Linked DNA regions of Homo sapiens: region 2 is linked to region 1. Evidence: fine-mapped QTL for protein levels in blood plasma. Region 1 holds a variant in brackets. A gene starts in the other region. All regions are shown on their reverse strands.

Region 1 (11,198 bases):
AGCCAGGAGTTTGAGACCAGTCTGATCTTGCAATATAGTGAGACCCTATCTCTACAAAAATAGAAGACAAAAACAACAACAACAACAAACGGGCATGGTGGTGTGTACCTGTAGTCTTAGCTACTCAGGAGCCTGAGGCAGGAAGATCCCTTGAGCTCAGGAGTTTGAGGCTGCAGTGAACTATGATTGTGCCACCACACTGCAGCCTGGGAAATAGAGCAAGACCCTGTCTGTAAGAAAAGGAAAAAAAACAAAAAACAGAAAAACAGTACTGGCATAAGGACAGACATATACACCAATAAAATAGGACAAAGATCCCAGAAATAAACCCTCATGTATACAGTTAATTGATTTGTTCAAGGATGCCATAAAGGAAAGGACAATGTTTTCAGTAAATGGTGTTGAGACAAACAGATATATCATGCAGAAGAATGAACTTGGTCCTTTACACCATATACAAAAAAGAACTCAAAATGAATCAAAGACCTAAACTGAAGAGCTAAAGCTATACGACTTTTAGATGAAAAATTTGGGAAAATCTTCATGACATTGGATTTGACAATGACTTCATGGGTATAACAGTAAAAGAGTAGAAAACAAACAAAAAAGAAAAATTGAACTTTATCAAGGTTAAGAACTTCTGTGCATCAAAGAATACTATCAAAAAGTGAAAAAGATGACCTAGTAAATGAGAGAAAATATTTGTAAAGCATATACCTGATAAGGAATTAATATTCAAAATACATAAAGAACATCTAAAACTCAGTAACAATAAAACAACTTAATTCAAAAATGGGCAAAGGACTCGAATAGACATTTTTCCAAAGAAAATATACAAATGGCCCCTAAGCACATGAAAAAATGCTCAACATTATTAGTCACTAGGGAAATGCAAATCATAACCACAATGAGATACCTCTGCACACTTACCAGGATGATTATAAGAAAACAGAAACAAACAAACAAAACCCCAGAAAATAACAAGTGCTGGTAAGAATGTGGAGAAACTGGAATCCTCATGCATTGCTGGTGGGAATGCAAAATGGTGCAGTAACTATGGGAAAGTTTGGTGGTTTCTCAAAAGATTAAACATAGAGCTGGGCACAGTGGCATGCACCTACTAAGAAGCTCTGGACCCAGACTGCCTGGCTTCAACTATGCTCCCACTGTTTTCTAGTTCATAGTCACTACCTCCGTAGGGGATTTTCGGGGGCACTAAGACTTCTCAGGTATCAAAGCCAGGACTTAAACCAGTGCTTTTCTCACGAAGGCAGACAGCCTCTTGGGAAGCTGCAAAGTATCAACAAAGGTAAGATTTGACGGTTATGAAGAGTACAGCAGGCCGTGGCTCACGCCTGTAATCCCAGCACTTTGAGAGGCTGAGGTGGGCAGATCACCTGAGGTCAGGAGTTCGAGATCAGCCTGGCCAACATGGCAAAACCCCATCTCTACTAAAAATACAAAAATTAGCTGGGTGTAATGGTGGGCGCCTGTAATCCCAGCTACTTAGGAGGCTGACACAGGAGAATCGCTTGAACTCAGAAGGTGTAGGTTGCAGTGAGCCTAGGTCGTGCCACTGCACTCCAGCCTGGACCACAGTGTGAGACTCCATCTCAAAACAAACAAACAAACAAACAAAAAAGAGTACAGCAGAGGCTTCAAGGCTCATTTCGTGCCTGTGTGTAGTCTGCAGGGGGCAGTGGGAGCAGCCTTAGTTTCCTGAGTCTGAATTTAGGAAGAAATTTTCAAAATGAGGCCCAAAACTCCCTTGCTGAGAAAACAAGCCTTCCATCAGGGGATCATTCTCTGGTCTAGCCAAACTTGCAGTTCCGGGAAAGCTGCTTATGTTTATTGTAGTTTGGTTTTGGGTGGAAAGGCTGTTTTGGTTCTAGAGTTTTGCTTTCCTCTTGGCCCAGCTGCAGGCCCAGACGGGTCCTTGTTGGAAGTCAGCCCTCCTCCCCGAAAGGAGGAAAGGCCCTCCTGTCTGTGGTCGGCGGCATTGTACTTGCTGGATTCCAGGCTGTCAGTCTCATGGGTGAGCTCCCGGGATGCTTAGCCTGCAGATTGTTTTGTTAGTTTTTTCCTGCAATTAATTTGGAAATTACCCAGCTACCCACAGCCTCTCCCAGGTGTTCTGTAAACTACAGGCCTGCTCCTGCAGCTTTCGCCTTGGTGGAACCAACCCTGGCTGAAGCTGGGAGGGTTCTGGGTGGGGTGACAGGAGTCCCACAACGGCAGGGCTTGTTTTTAGCAAACGCCAGTTCCCTTCAGCTTGGTCACTAACCATCCTACTTTGTTGGATCCGAAGCAACTGGATCCACACACTCAAAGACACTATCTTTAAGCCTTACATGCCGTATGGAGATAAGCCAGGGGCATATGGAGAATCCACCCTACTCAGAGGCTCGAAGCCAGAGGATTCCCAAGCGCCAGTCAACACTAACAGGTGATTCTCCCAGCCTCCTGATTCCTACATCCAGGGAGGAAGGAGCCTCAGATTTCTGGTTCATTTTACTGAGGATTTGTTACACCCGGGTTGAGGGTTGGTCCCTCCTGTGTGCAACGGTCACATGACTTGAGCTCATTACCCCTTTTCTTGGACCTTAGTTTCCTTGCCTGAAAAGGGTGCATTTGAAACCTTCTGCTTCCCAGGGGAGCTGTGAGGATCCAAAGAGATAACACCTGTGAAAATGGCTGGTACTCCCTGAACAAAGTGGCTTTTGGAAAATGTTGGGATTATTATTAGTTTTGTTCCTGCTGAGCCCCTGGAGCTGTGGAAGGGCCCTGAACTAGGGTCTACAATGATAACTCACTGTTACCTTGGAAAGTTACTTTCTCTGGCTTCTCTTCCATAAAACAAGGGGTAGGGCTAGATAGTCTGTTAGCTGCACATTTATTTATAAGAAGCCAAGAGAAGTCTCAAAGGGAATACATCAAGAATCAGTTTTCCCCTGCCCTTTCATGGTCACTTTCTGTATCAGTTAGGATACATTTGTTTGTTGTTGTTGTTGTTATTGTCATTGTTGTTTTTGAGACAGAGTCTGGCTCTGTCACCCAGGCTGGAGTGCAGTGGTGCGATCTCGGCTTACGGCAACCTCTGCCTCCCGGGTTCAGGTGATTCTCCTGCCTCAGGCTCCTGAGTAGCTGGGATTACAGGCATACACCACCATGCCCTCCCCTATTTTTTGTTAAGACCAAATGAATGTGTTCCAGAAGTCCACAGCAGACTTTCCTGAACATCTCATTGGCCCAGAAAGTATCCTGTACCTGTTTCCAAATCAATCTCTGACAAGAGTGATAGGATAGTGACTGCGCTTACCTTATGCAAGTCAAGATTCACTGCCAAGGGATAAGACACAACCAACTGAAACCTGAACAAAATCAGGGTCTTGCGAGCAAACAAGAAGTGAAGAAAATGGGTGGGTAGACAACTAGCAGTGTCTGGCACACTTTCTTCTCAAAATAAGCTGATATTTATATGGCAGAAAGAGGGTGGATTGTTTCATGCCTGTCTGGAGTTGCCTGCTGGACAGTTGTCCTCAACATGGCCCTGCCATCAAAAGCCCTGAGCACAGTCCCCAGGAGAGGACACCATTCTTTATGAGCACCTGTGCAGGGAAAATGAAGGCGGACCCCACTTCACACAAGGTTGAATAGTTGTGTGAGGTTTTGATAAAAATTTGGGATAAAAGAATGTGTTGGCCGGGCGCGATGGCTCACGCCTGTAATCCCAGCACTTTGGGAGGCTGAGGTGGGCGGGTCACCTGATGTCAGGAGTTCGAGACCAGCCTCAACATAGAGAAACCCCGTCTCTGCTAAAAATACAAAATTAGCCAGGCATAGTGGTGCATGCCTGTAATCTCAGCTACCCGGGAGGCTGAGGCAGGAGAATTGCTTGAACCTGGGAGGCGGAGGTTGCAGTGAGCTGAGATTGCGCCATTGCACTCCAGCCTGGGCAACAAGAGTGAAACTCCATCTCAAAAAAAGAGAATGTGTTATGATGTGGGAGTGGAAATTTTTGAAAACATTCATATTAAATGTAGTTTTCTTCATACTGTGAGAAACCCTTCACAGGACTGCTCGTGGAAACGCCATGTTCCTAATTGCACTCCCTGTTCCTGAGGTCTGGGCCTCTGTGAGAGAGTGACATGGTCTGGCTGGGCTTTGAGCTGGGTCACACATTGGCTGCTGTAGGGAAAACTGCCAAGGGAGCAGGGGAGGAAGCAGGGGGTCCTGTTAGGGGCTGGCACTGTGATCCGGGAGAGATGACAGGGTCCTGGAGGGCTGGCGGCTGTGGAAGCGTGGCATGGGGTTAGGTGGTTCCTGGAGAGGGAATGGTCAGGGCAAATTCATGATGACAGGAACACATGGGAGTGTCAGGGAACAGCAAATGGTGTGTTGGCTGCAGCCTAGGGGTGTGGGAAGGCAGCTATGGGAGACGTGGCCGGCAAGAAGGTTGACATAAGGATGACCGAGGGTCCCAAGTGCCAGGTGAGGCACTGAAGCGTTCTACTGCAGACGGCAGGCAGCCTTCTCCACAGGACTGGAGCTCAGCTTCAGGGAGGCAAGCTGGCAGCACGGACAGAATGGAGGCAGGAGTACTCTTGGGAGGCCCTGGCTGGCTGCTGGGGCCGTGAGCAGAGGTGGGAGTTGAGTCCTGGGAGGTGGTGGCTCTCAATTTATTGCCTGGTTGCAGAGCACCTCCATGCCTGAGAAACCATGACTGGGGCTCTGCCCTGACCACCCCCACTTGAGAAACTGCTCCAGGTTCTCAGATAGCGAGATAAACTGGTGCTCTGCCCCATGGCTGAGATCCACCCTGATTCTGGCTTCCCAATCTCTTCCTCACCCTGGGAGGGGCTGACAGCTGTTCCCTGGGTGTCTGACTAGGTGCTTCCTGGTTAACCCTTCTGGGCTGAGCTGGAAATCCGAGCTTCCGTTCTCAGAAGAGGGAGTGTGGGGCTGGCAGAGGGGTTCAGGAACTCCACAGGGAGCAGACAGCATTCCTCTTTTGAGGCCAAGCATTGAGGACCATGCCAGGGGCTCTGCAAAGGCTGGCTTTGGCCTCAGCCAGGGAGAGGAGATGCTGGAGAGAGGGCCGGGGCAGGAGAGCAGAACTCACTAAGGGCATTCCATCTCGCCCCTACTCTGCCTGTCCATCCCATTTAAAATTTTGTTCACTGCTTAGTTTGGCCTGAGGAGCACTAACTACACTACTTTCTCTCAAGGTAGTTCTAAGCTATTTATTTAACAGGTAAGTCCATTCCTCAAGCTGCAGTCCATCCCCACTCCTTAGCCCCTACCTTCACATCCTCACCAGATTACTTTTACTTCCATATTACCTTCATTAAGATGATAATCAAATGCAGTCTCCATTGGGGGAGGCAGAGGTTCTAGTCCAGCTTGGACACTTGTAACTGTCATATCTTGGGCAAGTCACACACCCCTTCTATGGCTCTATGGAGGCTCCACACACACTCACAATATTCCTATTTATTTCTATTGGGAACTTATACAAGCAATGAGATGAAAATCCTGGTTCTCCCCATGTGGTGCAATGTGATCCTGGGAACATGCTTTCCCAATCTGGGCCCCTTCCCCATCCTTCATGGTACATGCCCCTGTCTGAACTGTTTTTCATCAGGGACATATTCCCCCAGCTATCTTGTCATGTCTACCCTCAGGAACAGGCTGAGCACACACAGAAAGTCAAGCTCGTATGTGTTCAAGGCAGGGGAGGGTTCCTTAGGGCACTGAGGAGGACCTTAGGCTTTTACTAGAGGATCCTTTGGCCCAGACTGACTTGGAGACAGGGACCCCTTCCAGTTGGCCATTGTGTCCTGAACAGAAAGCTTAATTTTTCTCCTAAACCCTCAACTACCTCAGACTTGGGGCTAGAGCTGAGGGGTCAGAGGCAAAGTTTATTCTATACTCAGGCAATTGACTGTTGCTAAGGGAGGGTATAGAGCTTGAACCCAAGGTCCCTACAGTGCCTCAGCCCGAAATCAGGACGTGGCTTCCTGCCCTGGCTCTGTCACCCCAGCTTTCAAGATGTTTTCAGATATACTCTTGTTGAATGTCATTGTCACAGTCACCCATACAGCTGGAAACAGGAGATGAGGTACAGTCTAAGGGCTAGGATTCCAAGACTCAGAAAGTACTCAAAGGAGGAGATGAAGCACTCCACCCCATCTCTGTCCCCTTGCCACCCTGCCCTCTCTGCTCTCTGTGGTCAGAGCCACAAGACAGCGCTGGAGTGCTAGCTGGGGTTCCGGGCCAGAAACAGGAGGCTTCTAGAAGTTATTCTGGCATCTCTAATCTCAATAACACATTTTTTCAAAGTTCTTTCTCTTTGACCAGGGCATAGGAATCACCTAAGGGTCTTATAGAAAGGCAGGTTCTGGTCTAGGAGGTCTGGGGTGAGGCCAAAGAACCAATATTTCTAGCAAGCTCCCAGGGAATGTCCTTGCAGCCGACCTCCATCTCTTGTGTAAACCAACAGGGAGGGCTTGCCTCCCTTTGCCCCCAGGCCTTGCTCCTGGCCCTTGCAGAAGTGCATCTTGCATTCAAGTGACCAAAAGAAGAGGCATTAGAAAATGTGAAAGGGTAAAAGGGGACCTGCACCCAGTTTTATAGGTGGGGAAACAGGCCCACTCCATGCCAGAAGGAATTTGTTCAAGACCTCACAGCAATTTAGTGACAAAGTCAAGACTCAGGCCTCCTGTATAGGGGAAAAGTCAAAAGCAAAAACAAACTCCAGAAAAGATATATACTTAAGCGTTAACTGCGCATTCTCTGGGCCAACTATGGGTTCCCCCCC[G/C]CCAGCCTTTTTTTTTTTTTTTTTTTGCTGTTATTTCCCTCCCTCTTTATTTTTCTTACCTGTTATTTCTTTTAAAACAATGAACACTACTGATTTTGTAATAAGAAAAAATTTTAGTAAAAGAAAATTCTCACAAAGTTTTTAGTAAATGAGATTATGTTCATGAATGTGTTTGGTAAACTGTAACTCCACAGGGCAGCTCCAAGTCATGAGTGTGCAGTTGGGCTCAAACCGTACAGAAGTCATTTCCAGGATGTTATCCTTACTCTTCTAGGAGCCCACATCGCCCAGATGAGGAAGGCCACCGCTGCCGCCAACGCCGACTACCGTGAGCAGCTTCCTGCTCCCCTGTCGTCGCCTCTGCGGTCGGGGCACTTTCCCCAAAGCGCTGGCCGCAGGAATCTTTCCCCTTAAATCGGGGAAGAAGTTTCTCTAATCCATTTTCGCGGTGAACGACCTCGGGCCAAGTTTGCTTTTGTTGCTGGTTCCCTAAGCTTAATTGCAAGCAAAGTTAATTTGAAAGAAAATACATGATACAGCTCTAGGGCGAATTCTAACGAGCCTTGGGCAATGAGGGAAGAACGTGTCTAATTATCCACAGCCCGGGGACGCCTGCACACGACGCTGGCGGGTGCAGGGCCCGGAGAGGGACAAACGATTTTTCTGTGTTCATAAAGTGAAGAAGAAAAAAATAAAAAAGGCACCTCCAGTCTCTGAGCCCCCAGATGAGGGACTGGGAGGGGTTTGCAAATTCCTAGGGTTAGAAGGTTCCAAGACATACAGCGGAATGTTCTCAGGATCCCACAGTCACGCGGGCTAAGGGGGCCGCCCGCGACCCCGCTGTGGATGAGGCCCCGGGCGGCGCGCACTGTCTCCGAGGTACTCGCTCCCCTGCGCGGCGCCCATTCCCACCTGGCCCGGCCGGTGCGCGAGCTCTTGGTGTCGTCGGCCGGTGGGAGGCCGAGAAGGGCTGTCGCTCTGTCTTCAACGCCTTGATCCCAACCCTCGCGCGTCTCCGTGTCCCTTGGGGCACCTGAAGCACACAACCAGGTCCCTCCCCGCAGCGTCCTCTCTCTCCTGATGCTGACCCTCGCCTTTGGCACAATCTTACCTGTCCCGCAAGTTGACAAGTAGAATGGGGGACGAAAATGTCCGCTCTTTCCCACCCTGTCTTTCTCCTTCCCGGGGCTTTATCATGACACTCCAGGAGGCTTTGTTACAAGGCAGCGCTTATTTAAAGCCTTTCAGCCCTGCTATGCTCTGCGCTTTGCAGTTTACAAAGCGCTTTTCACCTCTCCTCTCGTTTAACTTCAGGAAAATTATCTGAGGTAGCAGTCACAAATTCCCATTTCACAAATGACGACCCGAGAGGAGAAGGGACTGGCTTAAGATTAGTGGTGCTGTCAAAGCACTGGACTTGCTCATTAGGAAACAGAGAAAGCCTCAACTCTGGCACTAAGGGCAAAAACCAGCCTTCTCCAGCCCCAGTCCCACGCCTGGGCTCTTCTGCAGCCCAGAACAAAACTCCTGGGTGGAGAACTCTTACTTTCCCATTCTTCTCAACCAGGCAAGTCATCCTGACCTCTGCACCTGGGACAGCCAGCTTGTCTAGCTGAATGAAGGAGAACCCTTGAACTCCATACCTGCAAAGATTCTTAGGGAGAGGAGGGCGGCCCAATACCTGCACTCTTCAAGGTCACAAGGCTGGGTCTGGAATTTGGGCCGACGGGTGGCAGGGTCAGCGCTCAAGTGCTTCCAGGTACCACCACCAAAGCCAGGAAGGGCCAGCACCTAGACCTGCACTGCACAACACAGTGTTGCTACTGAACACCTAGCAGGTGACTAGTCCACATTTAGAGAAGCTGTAAGTGTAAAACACACTCCAAATTGTAAACCCTTCATGTAAAAGGAGAGCAAAACATCTCAATTTTTACATTGATTATATGTTGAAATCATAATATTTTTGATATGTTGGGTTAAGTATATCATTCAAATTAACCTCACCTGTTTCTTTTTACTTTATTAATGTGGCTACTAGAATATTTAAAATTACATATGTGGCTTGCACCATATTTCTAATGGAGAGCACTGGTTTATACAAATCCCCATTTGGACTGAACCAAGTTCACATGTCTTCGTGAACAGGATAGTGCAGTCCCAAAAATAAAAAATAAAAATTACCAATGGTTTTCATACAATCTTCTTTTTCACACCCCAGCCCTTCCCTGTTAAGTTTATACAGAAAGAGGCTGAGTTTCTCTTGCCATAACTCACTTGCTCAAAGATTTTTATTAAAACAGTCCATCTGAACACTCCAGTTTATCTGAAAGCTGTGAATGGAGCCTCTGAAATATTTAATGCTGAAAGTTTTTGCTCCAGAATCGAAACTTAAAGATTTCTCAAGGGAAAGGGGGAGAGTTATTGGACTTTCTCTAATTTTAGTGAGCCTGCTACTTAAGCAAGATACAAAATGAAGTTAAAATTCCAGTTTCTTTCTAAAGCTCACTTTACTGACTGCCCTAACTTAATTTTTCTCTTTCCTTTTTGCATGGGGGAGGCTGCTGAGGTGTAGCAGGGGGTGCTGGGGATGGAAGAGCCCTCCCCAGCTACTGAAAGGCGTCACCAACGGGCTCCTTGAATCCTCTCATCTCCTTAAACTTTAGTTCACCCTTTGGGTCCAGGGCTGCGTGATGACAAGAAACAGTGGACAAATGAACGAATGTACTTCTCTCTGCCTTATAATGGAAAAGCAGATTTATGACTGGGCAGTAACAGCCATGAAATTACCAGCACGTCCTGCTCAAAAGTTCAATAAGTTATGATATAATTGCTGCCTGGAGCCAATCCTGGGACTTTAGGTTAGACGCTTGGCCATGAACTCTTTTCCGTTCCCTAGAACAGCGGCTAGGCTTTGGGTGGCTACTCAGAGGCCCTGGGTGGCCCACCATTGCTGCCAAATACGCAGGGCAGCATCCAAGATGATGGGGCCCTGAATGATAACCCGGGGGCGGTGGATAGAGTCCTGCAGCCCTCTAGTGTAACAGATGGGGGAGACTGAAGGTTCAGGTGATGGGACTGGAGTGCTGACGCACAGTTCAACTCGGAGCTAGGTCTCAAGTTCTCAGAGACAGGGAAAACCAGCCCAGGTCAACCAGAGCAGAGATTTCTCCAATTTAAAAAAGAAGAAAAGCCTATTTCTTTTGCAAATTTGTCCTCCTCACTTTAAGAAGAAAGGCGCTGCCGCAGCCTTTTATTGTAGTAACGCAGTTAAAGGCACTAGAGGACGAACCGCGTAAAAAGGCCCGAGTTCCGGCAGCACATGGAAGGCTGAAACTGATTCCCCACAATTTGGATCCTGGTCTCTGGTGTTGACACTACGCTGCCCTCTGGTTACCGCCAAGGACCCTCCCCGATAGAATACCAGAAAGCATCCCGTTTGAGGGCTTCGCTCCATCGAGGGTCCCTGTGCCAGTCCAAGGGCTCTGGCTGCCTCGCCCCACCTCCTCCCGTTTACAGAGTACACCGGGTGCCTACGCTGTGCGCGGGGAGACCGAGCCTCTGTGGCCTGCTCGGTCTTTTCCACGTGGGTCCCAGTTGAGTCCTCTCTCCATTCCTGTTCGTTCTCAGATTGCGGGGAACGTGTGAACAGCCGATGTGTCTATGAGTTTTCGTCCCTACGCTGGCTCACATGGCGGACACGAACCGATCTATCCCACCGGGATAAGCGGCAGCATGGCGAGCATGGTAGGCGCCTGCACTGGCCCCTCCGAGCTGCCCGCCAGGGTTGTAGCAGGCTCCCAGCGCTCCGAACTGGCCGGGCGACGTGCGCCCGTAGAAGTCCACCGTGGTCTCCACGCCGCCACTGCTGCCGCCCGCTGGGGGCGAAGCGGGTCCCGCCAGGCGGCCAGCAGCGGCAAAGATCGCACTGCCGGCGCCCTGCGGGTACGCGCCGTCGGGGCCCGCGTAGGCAGCCGCATAGGCGGAGGGGTTGGCCGGCCGGGCCCCGGTGCAGCCTGCGGGCTGGTAGCCGGTGGTGGTAGCGGGGGCGCCGGCGGAGGCAAAGGCGCAAGAGCCGCCGGGCCCCGACGGTGCGGGCCCCAGCTCTGGGCTGAGCGGCCGCTCAGGAACCAGGCCGAAGACGCGGCAAGGGCCGGGCGACGCCGCGGGGTAGTAGACTGGAGGCGGCGCGGCCAGCGACGGCGGCGCGTAGCCTGCATAGACGGCGCCCGGGTAGGGGGGGCGCGCGGCGGGCACCGCGCCTGGGAAGATGGCGGCGGCGGCGGCGGCGGCGGCGGCGGCGGCTGCGGCAGCCGCCGCGTCGTGCATGTAAGCCGGGTAGGTGGAGAGGTCCGAGCGCTTGAAGCGCTTGCGGCGGCGC
Region 2 (11,198 bases), not on the chromosome of region 1:
CATAACAATATAAATGAATGATTGAATAAATAAATATAAGAGAATAGAAAAATCTTTGCAAAAAATGCTAAATAATTTATGTTGATACTCCTCCCTCAGAAAGGTGGAGCATAACTCTCCACCAGTAAGTATGGGCTGGACTTAGTGATTTCCCTCCAGAATACAGTATGGGGAGTAGGAGGAGGTAAAGAATTACTTACTATGGAGAAACCTGACAAAATGAACTCAACCAGGTGACCAAGGTCAATATCAAGAATAGTTATCATGTTGACATTATTCACCCTTCATAAAATCAGTAGAAATGATATTTTATCATTGTGGTCTTCTTCCACCAAACCAGAAAAACCTAACCATGAGAAAAACCTCAGAAAAGACACAATTGTAGAACATGCTATGACATACCTGATGAGTACTCTTTGAAACTTTCAAGGCCAGCAAAAGCAAAGTCTGAAAAACTGTCACAGCCAAAAGGATCCTTAGGACAAATGACGACTAAAGGTAATGTGGTATCCAGGATGGGACACTGGAACATAAAAAAAAAAATTAGACAAAAACAAAGAAAATGTAAGTAAAATATGGACTTTAGTTAATAGCAATGCACTAATGTTTGTTCCTTAGTTTCAACAAATGAACCTTACTAAGGTAAGCTATTAACAATAGGAGAAACTACATGCAAGATGTACAGAAACTCTCTGTAACATTTTTGAATTTCTCTTTGAATCTAAACGTTTTAAACATAAAAAGCTTTATTAAAAAGAAAAAAGTGGCAGAGCTAAGCCTGTCTAATTCCCAAACCCAACTCTATGTTATGAACTGAATGTTTGTATTCCCTCAAAATTTATACATTGAAGCCCTAACCCCCAGGGTGACTTGGATATAGGATTTTTAGGAGGTAATTAAGGTTAAATGACGTCATAATAATGGAGTCCCAACCTGATAGGATTGGTGGCCTCATAAGAAGAGAAAAAGCGAGATCTCCCTATCTCTCTTCATGTGAACATGATGAAAAAAGGCCATGTGAGCTCACAGTGAGAAGGTGGCCATCTGCAAGCCAGGAAAAGAGACCTCACTAGGACTGAATCACCGGATCTCATACTTCCTAGCTTCTAGAACTGTGAGAAGATAAATTTTTGTTGTTTATGCCACCCAGTCTATGGCATTTCGTTATGATAGCTTGAGCCTTACTGCCTTTAGACCTTGATTCTAGGAGTTACTTTGAAAGTTGGACCAATCACTTGACTATGCAGACATCTATTTCCTCTCATTAAGATGAGAATAATAATACTGCCTGCCTATCTCAGCAGCTACTTTAAATTCAAATCGTTAATATATGGGAAAGTATTGTACAAATGTAGATAATTAATTCTTATTAAATTAAACGGATACTAGTTTTTCTTATCTCCCAAAAGCCTAAACATAGTAAATTTAGAGAGTAATGCTGGTTTTATTTTCTAAGGTTTAAACTTGTTTGCATTTGTGGATTATACTCCTTGGATCTCAAAACTAACTAGTTATGTGGACCATTATTAGGTGGTAATGCTGGGGACAAAATTATTAAAAGTATCTTACAGAGATTCATAGGGACAATAATAAGAACTTTCAATATACCTTAAAGACAAAGGACAGTAACTTCAGAATATTTTGTAAGCATGATATCATATTTTCTGCTAAGTCATTTCTGAAGAGTTTACATTAGTTTTAGCGTTTTAAAAATACTGTATTTATGGACAGATGGCAGGTATATATTATAGGGCTAAAGAAATATTTCCGAAAAAATTACACTATGAGAAATATAAAAGCAATTTAAATGTATCATTAAAGGAAGACATGTAGTTATCTCTGAAAAAATCTTAAATTCCAAGGATTGTTAGACTAAAGATATAACTGAATTGTTTGGGGGAATCATAAGGACCATTAAATTATTTTGAGGTTAATAACATGTATATTGATGTCACCTTAAAACAAAGGAAGGATGAGAAACGAAGATGATACAAGAGGTAGATTTCACCTTTTTTTTAACTCCTTTAACATATCATTCTGCATCTATGAAAGATTTTTTGAAGAATTATTTTAAGCTCATCCTCCCTCTCTTCTCCAGCTTTGCTGCTTCTCATTTCTTACTCTTTCCTGTCACCATTTCTCCTTACCAAGAAGTTGGGGGAAGGAGGGAAAATGACCACGTAAAGCTGTGTTAGTTTGTTGTAAACTCATTAAGCATTCATTATTTGGCTGGGTGCGGTGGCTCACACCTGTAATCTCAGCACTTTGGGAGGCCGAGCTGGGTGGATCACCTGAGGTCGAGAGTTCAAGAACAGCATGGCCAACATGGGGAGACCCCGTATCTACTAAAAATACAAAAATTAGCTTGGCGTGGTGATGCATGTCTGCAATCCCAGTTACTTGGGAGACTGAGGCAGGAGAATCACTTGAACCCGGGAGGCAGAGTTTGCAGTGAGCCAAGATTGCGCCATTGCACTCCAGCCTGAGCAACAGAGTGAGACTCCTCTGTCTCAAAAACAACAACAACAACAACAACAACAACAAACATTCATTTTTTGAGTTAATTTTTGAATTTATTTCTTTGCATTCTGGGAAACTAGGTAGCTCATTTATTTAAATCTTCAAATCACAGTACTTTGTTTATATTCAACACGTTTTTGTATCCTGGGTTACGTGCTATCTTGGTCTCTAAAGAGAGTTGAAGGAGGAAGGAGAAATAAAAAGGATGGAGAAGGTGGTCAGAGAGGTGTAAGGGAGGTGTAAGGGCATATGAAGAGGCAAAATTGTACCCAAATCCATGGAATTTTAGCTCAGTGTTACTTTCCCAGCAGAGCCTTGCTCTGTGCCTTTCTTTCTCTACTTCAACTATTAGTAAGAGAGGGTTAGTAAGGATGCCTTTTCCTACTGGTTCTCTCTATGTACCATGTAAAATTTTATAATGACATAACAACTATCAGTGGAACATGGTGGCTCATGCTTGTAATACTAGCATTTTGGGAGGCTGAGGAGGAAAGATTACTTGAGGCCAGGAGTTCGAGACTAGTCACATAGTGAGACACCCATCTCTACCAATACTACTACTACTAGTACTCCTACTCCTACTACTATCAACTATAATTCACTGAACAGTTTCTAATACACCAGATTTTTTCCTTGAAGATATGTATTATTGGGAATCATAAAAACTGTGCAAGTCATTACCATCACATTTTATCAATGAGGAAACTGAGGTTCAGAGAGGTAAGTAGTTTGTGGTTCAGTCATTGGGTGACACAGATCCAAATTGAACAGACTGAACAGATTCCAAAACCAATTGTACATAATATTCCAGCTCTGTTGTCCCACCTAGAGGAGTGTCTACCTTGCTGGAAGTCTGGGACCAAGTAGGAAGAGATGAAGCCACTGTGGCAAGGACTTTAGGAAGAGATGTCTAGGGCCACATAGGTGCTTTCTCACTTAGCCTACAACTAGGGCCAGCACAAAAGCCCAGATTTTTTAAAATCAGAAGTTACTTTTTGAAGTATGTTTCAATATGGCCAAAGAAAAAGATCATCATGGTGAACTGAAACTAACAGGTATAATGTCACAGAGACAATTATTTTTGAGGTTTAATAACATATGTTAAGCTGCCATTTAAAAGAGATAGCAAGTCAGCCGGGCGTGGTTGCTCACGCCTGTAATCCCAGCACTTTGGGAGGCCGAGGTGGATCTCCTGAGGTCAGGAGTTCGAGACCAGTCTAGCCAACATGGTGAAACCCCATCTCTACTAAAAAAAAACCACAAAAAATTAGCTGGGTGTGGTGGCAGGTGCCAGCAATCCCCAGCTACTTGGGAGGCTGAGACAGGAGAATTGCTTGAACCCGGAGGCAGAGGTTGCAGTGAGCAGAGATCACGCCATTGCACTCCAGCCTGGGGGACAAGAGCAAGATTTTGTCTCAAAAAACAAAATAAATAAAAATAAAAGAGATACAAATCAAACACATTGAGAAATACATATAAAAAGTGGATCCCCTAGACTGAAGAGGAAGATACAAGAAAGTAGGCAGGAAAAAAAATAACTACCTCCCTCAGAACAACTAGATTATAAAATACAATTACCTGAATACAACTTTTGAGCAGTGATTTTTCACTGATACATTCTTAGAAACCAATTCAGTAGTTTTAAATAAAATATTTGAAAGTTCTCTCTATGTAACTGTACCACTAATAATCTACAATGCATGATGCTTATCATTACTATAAAAATTACAATTTTAAAAATGCCTTTCATCATTTTCATTCACCCACTCTTATTAAATAAAGTTAATGGTCATTAGGAAATTTTCCTATACTACTGAATGCCTTAAAGCCTTCATTTGGAGAATACATGTTGGCCTAGAAGGAATGCATTCCAAAATTTTCCTTTCCATCATGGCGTGTGTCTGTTTATGTGTTGTGCCCTATATGTAACTACAAGTTTATTTTGTCCTGTCCAGAAGACGGGGAGGACGGTCCCAGCTGCAGGCTGTTCTGTGTGGGAAGAGAAAAAGGCTGATGCTTAAAGGCCCTCCAAAGGAATCTACTTAAGCCTCATACCAGATTTGGGAGGACTGGTTATACCTGCCTAAACCTGGCACAGGAAGAACAGCACTCAAGCAATTCCTACCTTGGGGTTAACTAGGAATACAAGTTTCACCTTGTGACTCTGGTGTAACTTTGGTTTATTTTTCTCTTAGTAACAGCTCAGCTTGCAAATGAAAGCACTGAGACGCAACTCAGTTACATGTTTGAGGACTCAGGAAAATCAATTCTTACCTTCCACTCTTCCAAATGTAATGGTTGTATTCCAGCTTTACCATGCCCCATAAGCAAATGACTTGAGAGAGAGAGGTGGTTGGGGGCTGGGGGAGAAAAAGAAGAAGGAGAAGGAGAGGGAAGAAGAGGAGGAAGAACAGAGAGAAAGAAAGTGAGGGGAAAAAAAAGAAACAAACAAAAAAAGACAGGAAAAGTCTCTTAACATTGAAGAGATTGGATATCCAGTGTCAGAAAATTTGGATTTTCTTGGGAGTACTTATTTTATTTATGGTGGTAAATAAAGCCCTCAAGGAAGGTTATTAATTTATCTGTCCTATTTAGTATATTAAATTATACTACTTCATATTCTAGTGGCCTGAAAAAGTTAATTTACCACTTGAATGGCATAAATGATGAATACTTACACCAAGTCCTGGAATTTTCCAATGCTCAACAAACATTTAGTACTTTTTGTTTAGGTCTCGCTTTTTTTTTTTTTTATTAGTATCTACGAAAAAGGAAAACAAAATTGTAGCATTCTGTTGGGGCTAACAGGACAGCTGTTGGCTAGGCTAAATGCCATCTTGGAGTAAGAGATACTTTAACTTAGGGCACTGGTGCTGAGAGATGGAGAGAATATCAGAAAAGAAAAATGCAGGGTGGAAGTGTTGAGAGGGAGGGAGATGATGTCAAAATCCATTGGCTTCCAGTGTTTCTGCTCTTTTTAGCTGGGGTGCAGTAACCTTCCATCTTACAACTTTGGGTTTCTTTAAACTTCATGCCTGCCCTCTCTACCAATGTTTTATGAGCTGTCATGTGGGACTAGAATGGGATTCTGAAAATTAAGAGCTGATTTTTATTCCACCGGATATATCAGTTGCCTGGGGCAGTAAAATAATTTAGTTTTGAAATGAAATGTTATTCGTGGGAGACAAGTGCACAACAATTTACTTAACTTAAACAGTAGGATGAGGAGGAAGAGGCAGACACCCAAACTACATTTCATATGTAAAATAAGGCTTACATGACTTTTGGATGCTATAGAAATAAAATTTCTGTACTGAGGGGCATAATTATCCACATAAATCTTATATGAGGAACACAGACCAGTACAAAAGCAGCTGTATCTTTTGGTTATCTTGGAGGCAATATATAACCACATAAGGTAAAATTGGATGCTGCTTGCTTTCTCTAAAAGCTGTGAGGATGTCTTTCTGTTCCAGAAATTGCTTAATGCAAGTAAATGAAAATATACTGAATACATGAGTAAATTCATAAACAGAAATACAAATGAAATTTCTAAAGTAGGTCCTGGTGAGCCCCAATTTTATGAATTATTAGAAGACAATGCACCCAGAAACTAAGACACTAGCTTGAAGACTTTTTTCATTTCTTTTCTTTTTTTTTTTTTTTTTTTTTGTTGCTGATGTTGTTGTTGTTGTTGTCGTTGTTTTGAAACAGTGTCTCACTCTTGCGCCTTGGCTGGAGTGAAGTGGCTCGATCTAGGCTCATTGAAGGCTCCATCTCCCAAGCTTAAGCGATCCTCCCCACCTCAGCCTCAGGGAATGGATGGGACTGCAGGTGCACACCACCATACCCGGCTATTAATTTACTTTTGTATTTTTTGTAGAGACGAGGTTTCGCTATGGCTTCAAGACTTTAAAAGGCAACAATGACTCTTTTGAAATTGCCTGCATTATCAAATGCCTGAAGTCAACCACAATGAATGGTGAGTCTGGTTTCTCCATGACACTAGCAATCCTCTGAAATAAAGGAAGTTAGAATTCCAGAACACGTTTGGGTCTCTGACTCTTCCTCGGTGGCTTCCAGGAGTTTAGGTCAGCCTGCAGGCCCGACCGGAACCCCCGACACCCCTCCACGCGGATTCTTTACATCTCCCTCCCTACCTTGTTTACGCCCTAGGGGGTAGGGAAATGAACAGTCAGTCAGGTGAGACCCAGCAGGGGGAGTGGTGAGCTGGTCCGAGGGCAGCCCGAATATGTCCCTGGGTGTGGGTATGGGTGTGGGGCAATTTGGGTGGGAGCAGCGTGGAGGCTCCCAGGACCAAGTCCTGCGCCTCTTTGGCGGGGTGTGTGCAGGAGGAGGGGGGATAAATAGGAGGCTCCCTCCTCCCGGCGACATTCACGGAGCCGGCCGGCCTCCCGCCCTGGGTGTTTCCCTGCCTTGTAGCCAGGGTGCCAGCCTGGGAAGTAGTTTCGTTTCCTTCTGCCTCCGGGATTAGTTTCCAGGCACCCTCTCAGGCGCCCGAGGCCCGGGAAGGGGGCGAAGAAGGAGGGAGACTTGTCTAGGGGCTGCCCGGCCCGGCAGAGCGGGGTTGATGGACCGGGCCGCCCGGTGCAGCGGCGCCAGCTCCCTGCCACTGCTCCTGGCCCTTGCCCTGGGTAAGTGGCCGTGCTGGGCACTGGAAACCAGGAGGAAAGTCTGGGGCTGGAGTCGCGGGGAGGGCGAACCCTGAACCGAGCTGGCATCTGGACAAGAGGGCGCGCTGGGGCTGGCAGGCGCGGGTTGGAGAACTTTGAAGGCTGGGAGAGCGCGAGGTTAAAGATCTGGCAATTGGGCACCTGGGGCTGCACCTGCTGGAGGCAGTCCCTAGACGCGTGAGAAGGCCCGAGGGCGGAAGCGATTCCGAGGTCCTCGCTGCCAGTGCTGCGAGCAGGCCGCCAGCTGCTGACTTGTGCGCACAGCAGAGGGCCTGGCGGCGCCGGCGGGCTGTCCACCGGGGTGAGGCGCTGTGCTCGCAAGTGAGGGTCGGGGGGTGGGGGCAGGGGCGAGCAGGGAAACCCACTAAAGAAGCTCACGTGGTAGTATAGACCAAGAAGCATATCCTGCAGGAGGCAGAAGAACGGGAACTCTTTGACTGAAGGTGTGATCACCTGGCGTTAGGGAAGAGTGCCAGCGGGAGGAGGAGTAGCAGGATGCCTAGAGCCCTCCAGAGGGTCTCTCCTGCCTCCTTAGGAGTCAGAACTCACAAAGCAGAGCTGGAACTTCAGATGTGGCTGGAAGCAGGCTTCCCCTTCCCCTCCACCGAGGGAAGGTAGTGAGAAGGCTTCTAAGTAGGAAAAAATCCCAACTCTTCAAAGCTTGCTCTCTGCATCATGGTCATTTTGCGGGGCAGAGAAGGGAAGGGAAACCAGTAACATTTTCTAATCTTAGCTGGGCTGTAGACACATCTGGGTTTGGAGCATTTATGTGGTAGGAGGAGAGTCTCCACAGCTGAAGTGTCACCACGATATCACTCCTACCTTCAAGCCTGGGAAGGGGACACCACAAATGAAAAAGAATGGGAATTCCTCTTATTGAGGAAAGAGAGGGGGAGCCTAAATGAAAACTTTCATTTGACTGTGTCCTTGGAGTAAGAGAGGTGGCTAAAAAGGTACAGTGAACTTGCTTGGAGGTGGATCAGACTTAGGACCAAGGTTAGAGAAAATAAACTTATTTAACAAACGCTGAAGAGGAAGGAGTCAGTAACAATTTAGTGGTAGAGTGAATGTGTACATTCATGAAGAAGAGCAATGGGGTTGAGACTTAACCCTAGAAATAGTACTGATGCTTTTGCCAGCATTGCTTGCAAGTAGCTGACATTCTCTTCCTCCACCGTGTCTAAACTATCCAACAGTCAAAGTATTCCCTGAGAATCTGTCGTAGTCAGCAAGGTGCTGAGGTATGTAGCAATGGAGGTGGGGAAAGGGCTCATGAGATTCCTAAAATAAAACATGATTCCTGCCCTAGAACTTGCACTGAATTTGGATATGCAAGCCCAGCAGGGTAACCTGTGGAAAAATTCACGGAATCAGAAAAGGGAGAAAGAGCTCAACAGCGGGGGCTGGAATAGTGGGGAAAGGCTGAATGGAGGACACGAATGCGTGCCTTGAGGCTTGGGTAGAGTTTGCAATAGTAGAGAGGAAAGAGGGAACAGAGACAAGGGAAAAAGCATTTAGTAAAGGGTTGGCGATGCGAATGAGCATGCTTTACTGGAAAGAGTAGAATTTCTGAGAGGCAGACAGATTATGAAGAACTGAAAAAGCCAGATTAGAATATTTGGAACAGAATCAATAAGCTATTAAACACACACCATCACAGGGCTTGACTGGGAGTGATATGATGCAAACAATGGTTTAAAGGTGATAAATCTGTCAGTGAGGTGCAGTATAGGAAGGGGGGGCGCCTGTGGGCCAGAGGACCTGATTGTCTCGTAGGTATAATCTGGGCATGAGCTACTTGGGGCCTAAATTAGGGTGATGTTTTAGCAGAGGTGTCATAGTAGAAATGACTATTGAAAGTCGATGGACATTCTTTCCCCTTTACTATCACAAAACTTGTCAAAAGACAGAAATGAAAATCAAAAAGCAAAACTCGAATCCAGTGCTATTGTACACTCAGGGTAACCTAAATGTACAACCGCCCTGTTAAATGATTGGCTTGGGAAATTGAATTTGGTCTCTAGATCCCCTTAAAGCTCTATTTCTTGCAAAATGCTAAGGAACGTAATTTGTTGGCATCGCTGTTTCCATTAAGTGGCCCTATTTCTGTCATACACACTTTACTTTTAAGTCCCCTTCCTAAATTATGTCACATGTTGTTCTATTTACTTTTTGAAAAGAATGTGAGCAATAAGATGCATGAGACACTAGTGTTTGTGTGTGTGTGTGTGTGTGTGTGTGTGTGTGTGTGTGAGATGGTGGAAATGCGATGAGAGTGGGCATTGAGCAGACATGAGCCCTGGTTCCAGCTCTACCACTTCATGACTCCGAGATGTCTGTAAGTTACAACTTTCTGGGCATTGTTTTTCTAATTTGTAAAATGAAGAGGTTTCATTAGATGGTGATGCCCTTTCCATGTCACATTCTTTTCAAAAAGTAAACAAAATAACATGTGATTTAAATTAGAAATGGCTTATGTCTATTACAAATGTAGATGCTCCTTAAATACATCTGGCATTTAGTAGATGCATCTTTACAGGATAATTTCCATTCTAACATATGCAAATTAGGTACTACTTTCTTTGAGAAATTTTATAAAGACAGAAGTGGGGTTGGAGATATAAAAAGAAGGTATACCATAAGCAGATTATATGGTACAAATACATTTAATATAAATATAAATTACACGTTTATGTGTTATCGATATTCTTTATATGCATTAATTTGGTTTAATTTTCTAAAACTGTTTAAAGGCATTTTCTAAGTCAGTAGAAATCCTGAGCCATTTAATCTTACTTTCTCAAAAAATGAGATTTTCCAAAATGGGCTCGTATTTCTCTACTGTATTTTCTTTTTCTTTTTCTTTTTCTTTTTTCTTTTTTTGAGACAGTCTCACTCTTTCGCTCAGGCTCAGTTACAGTGGCATGATCTCAGCTCACTGCAACCTCCGCCTCCAGGGCTCAAGTGACTCTCCTGTCTCAGCCTCTCGAGTAGCTGGGACAACAGGCACTCGCCACCACGCCCAGCTAATTATTGTATTTTTTGAAGAGACGGGGTTTTGGCATGTTGGCCAGGCTGGTCTTAAACTCCTGGTCTCAAGAGATCGTAGCAGATAAATATTTGTTGCTGAATTAGGTAGGGAGAGATAGGACATTCAAGTGCAGAATGTCCTGTCTAGGGAGAGATAGGACACTCCAGTGCAGAGACGTTGCGTTGCATATAACAGGAAAAACCAATACTGGAAACCATTTCTTTTGACTTATTTAAAAAGCATGTAAGCTCATCCTAGCTGTCTCCTACACCTTTGCTTTCCCTACTGCCTACCCATACATCTGTGCCATCCCTGGCTCTGGCTATTCTCTGACAGATTCTTGGACTCCTGGCTCTTCCTTGCTTCCAGGAAACCCTGCTTCTCCTAGCTCAGGGCCAGGCTAGCCTGACTAATAATGTTCAGTTGGTATTGGTCAGACCAGGTGCTTTATTTTGGACTGTGTCTGGCCTGTGTCACTCAGTGTCTATTCTGATTCTATTCTAGTCTGACTCTATCCTTGAATTTGTGGGTGACTCCTGTATATTCTCCAGTCTGCTTAGTGCACCAACACCTAGAGGATGCTCCTTTGGGCAGATGGAGAAGGGGTGACATCGCTTCATAGTCTCCCTGATAGAACCCACATGGCAATTACTGAAAATGGGTAAAAAGAGCATATCTTGAGGCAGGGTCATGTAGTGGTCAAGCCTGTAAACTCTGAACCAGACCTTTGGGGCATGGCCTCCTGGTGCTGTGACTTGCTAGCTCTGAAACTTCGGGCAAGTCTCTTAAACCTCCTTGGCCCAGTTTACTCACCTGTAAAAGCTAATAGTAATAGGACCAATGCAATTACGTGAATTAAATGCAATACTATGTAAAGCCACTCAAAATGTGCCCCAAACATAGAATAAGCATGAGTTATTATAATAGACAGTAGGAAAGCACAGGACAAATCA

Alleles and levels. Positions count from the first base shown, and alleles are read on the strand shown. Strength reflects both the effect of a copy and how common the allele is.
For the plasma level of the protein whose gene starts at base 6,914 in region 2, C is the low allele of the variant in region 1 and G is the other (weak association).

What was found. A credible set is the group of variants that fine-mapping cannot tell apart. PIP is the posterior inclusion probability: the model's chance that the variant is causal. The UK Biobank Pharma Proteomics Project read protein levels with antibody pairs (Olink). The fine-mapping took linkage between variants from a reference panel, not from the people measured, so its PIPs are less certain.
Region 2: it holds the start of BTC, and the variant in region 1 is the best candidate, but not a certain one, in a credible set for the plasma level of the BTC protein (UK Biobank, PIP 0.71).

Annotation. Positions count from the first base shown.
Region 1 is chr9:97,854,343-97,865,540 of GRCh38, reverse strand. It overlaps FOXE1 (forkhead box E1), which reads right to left. Exons shown (of 1, transcript NM_004473.4): 1 at 8,824-11,198. The coding sequence ends at 10,505. Among named protein-coding and RNA genes, the nearest start is that of FOXE1, 6.7 kb to the right of the region's middle. RefSeq lists an enhancer at 1,144-2,960. The variant G/C (reference allele first, on the strand shown) is at 6,821.
Region 2 is chr4:74,790,239-74,801,436 of GRCh38, reverse strand. BTC (betacellulin) reads left to right here and starts at 6,914. Exons shown (of 6, transcript NM_001729.4): 1 at 6,914-7,175. The coding sequence starts at 7,112.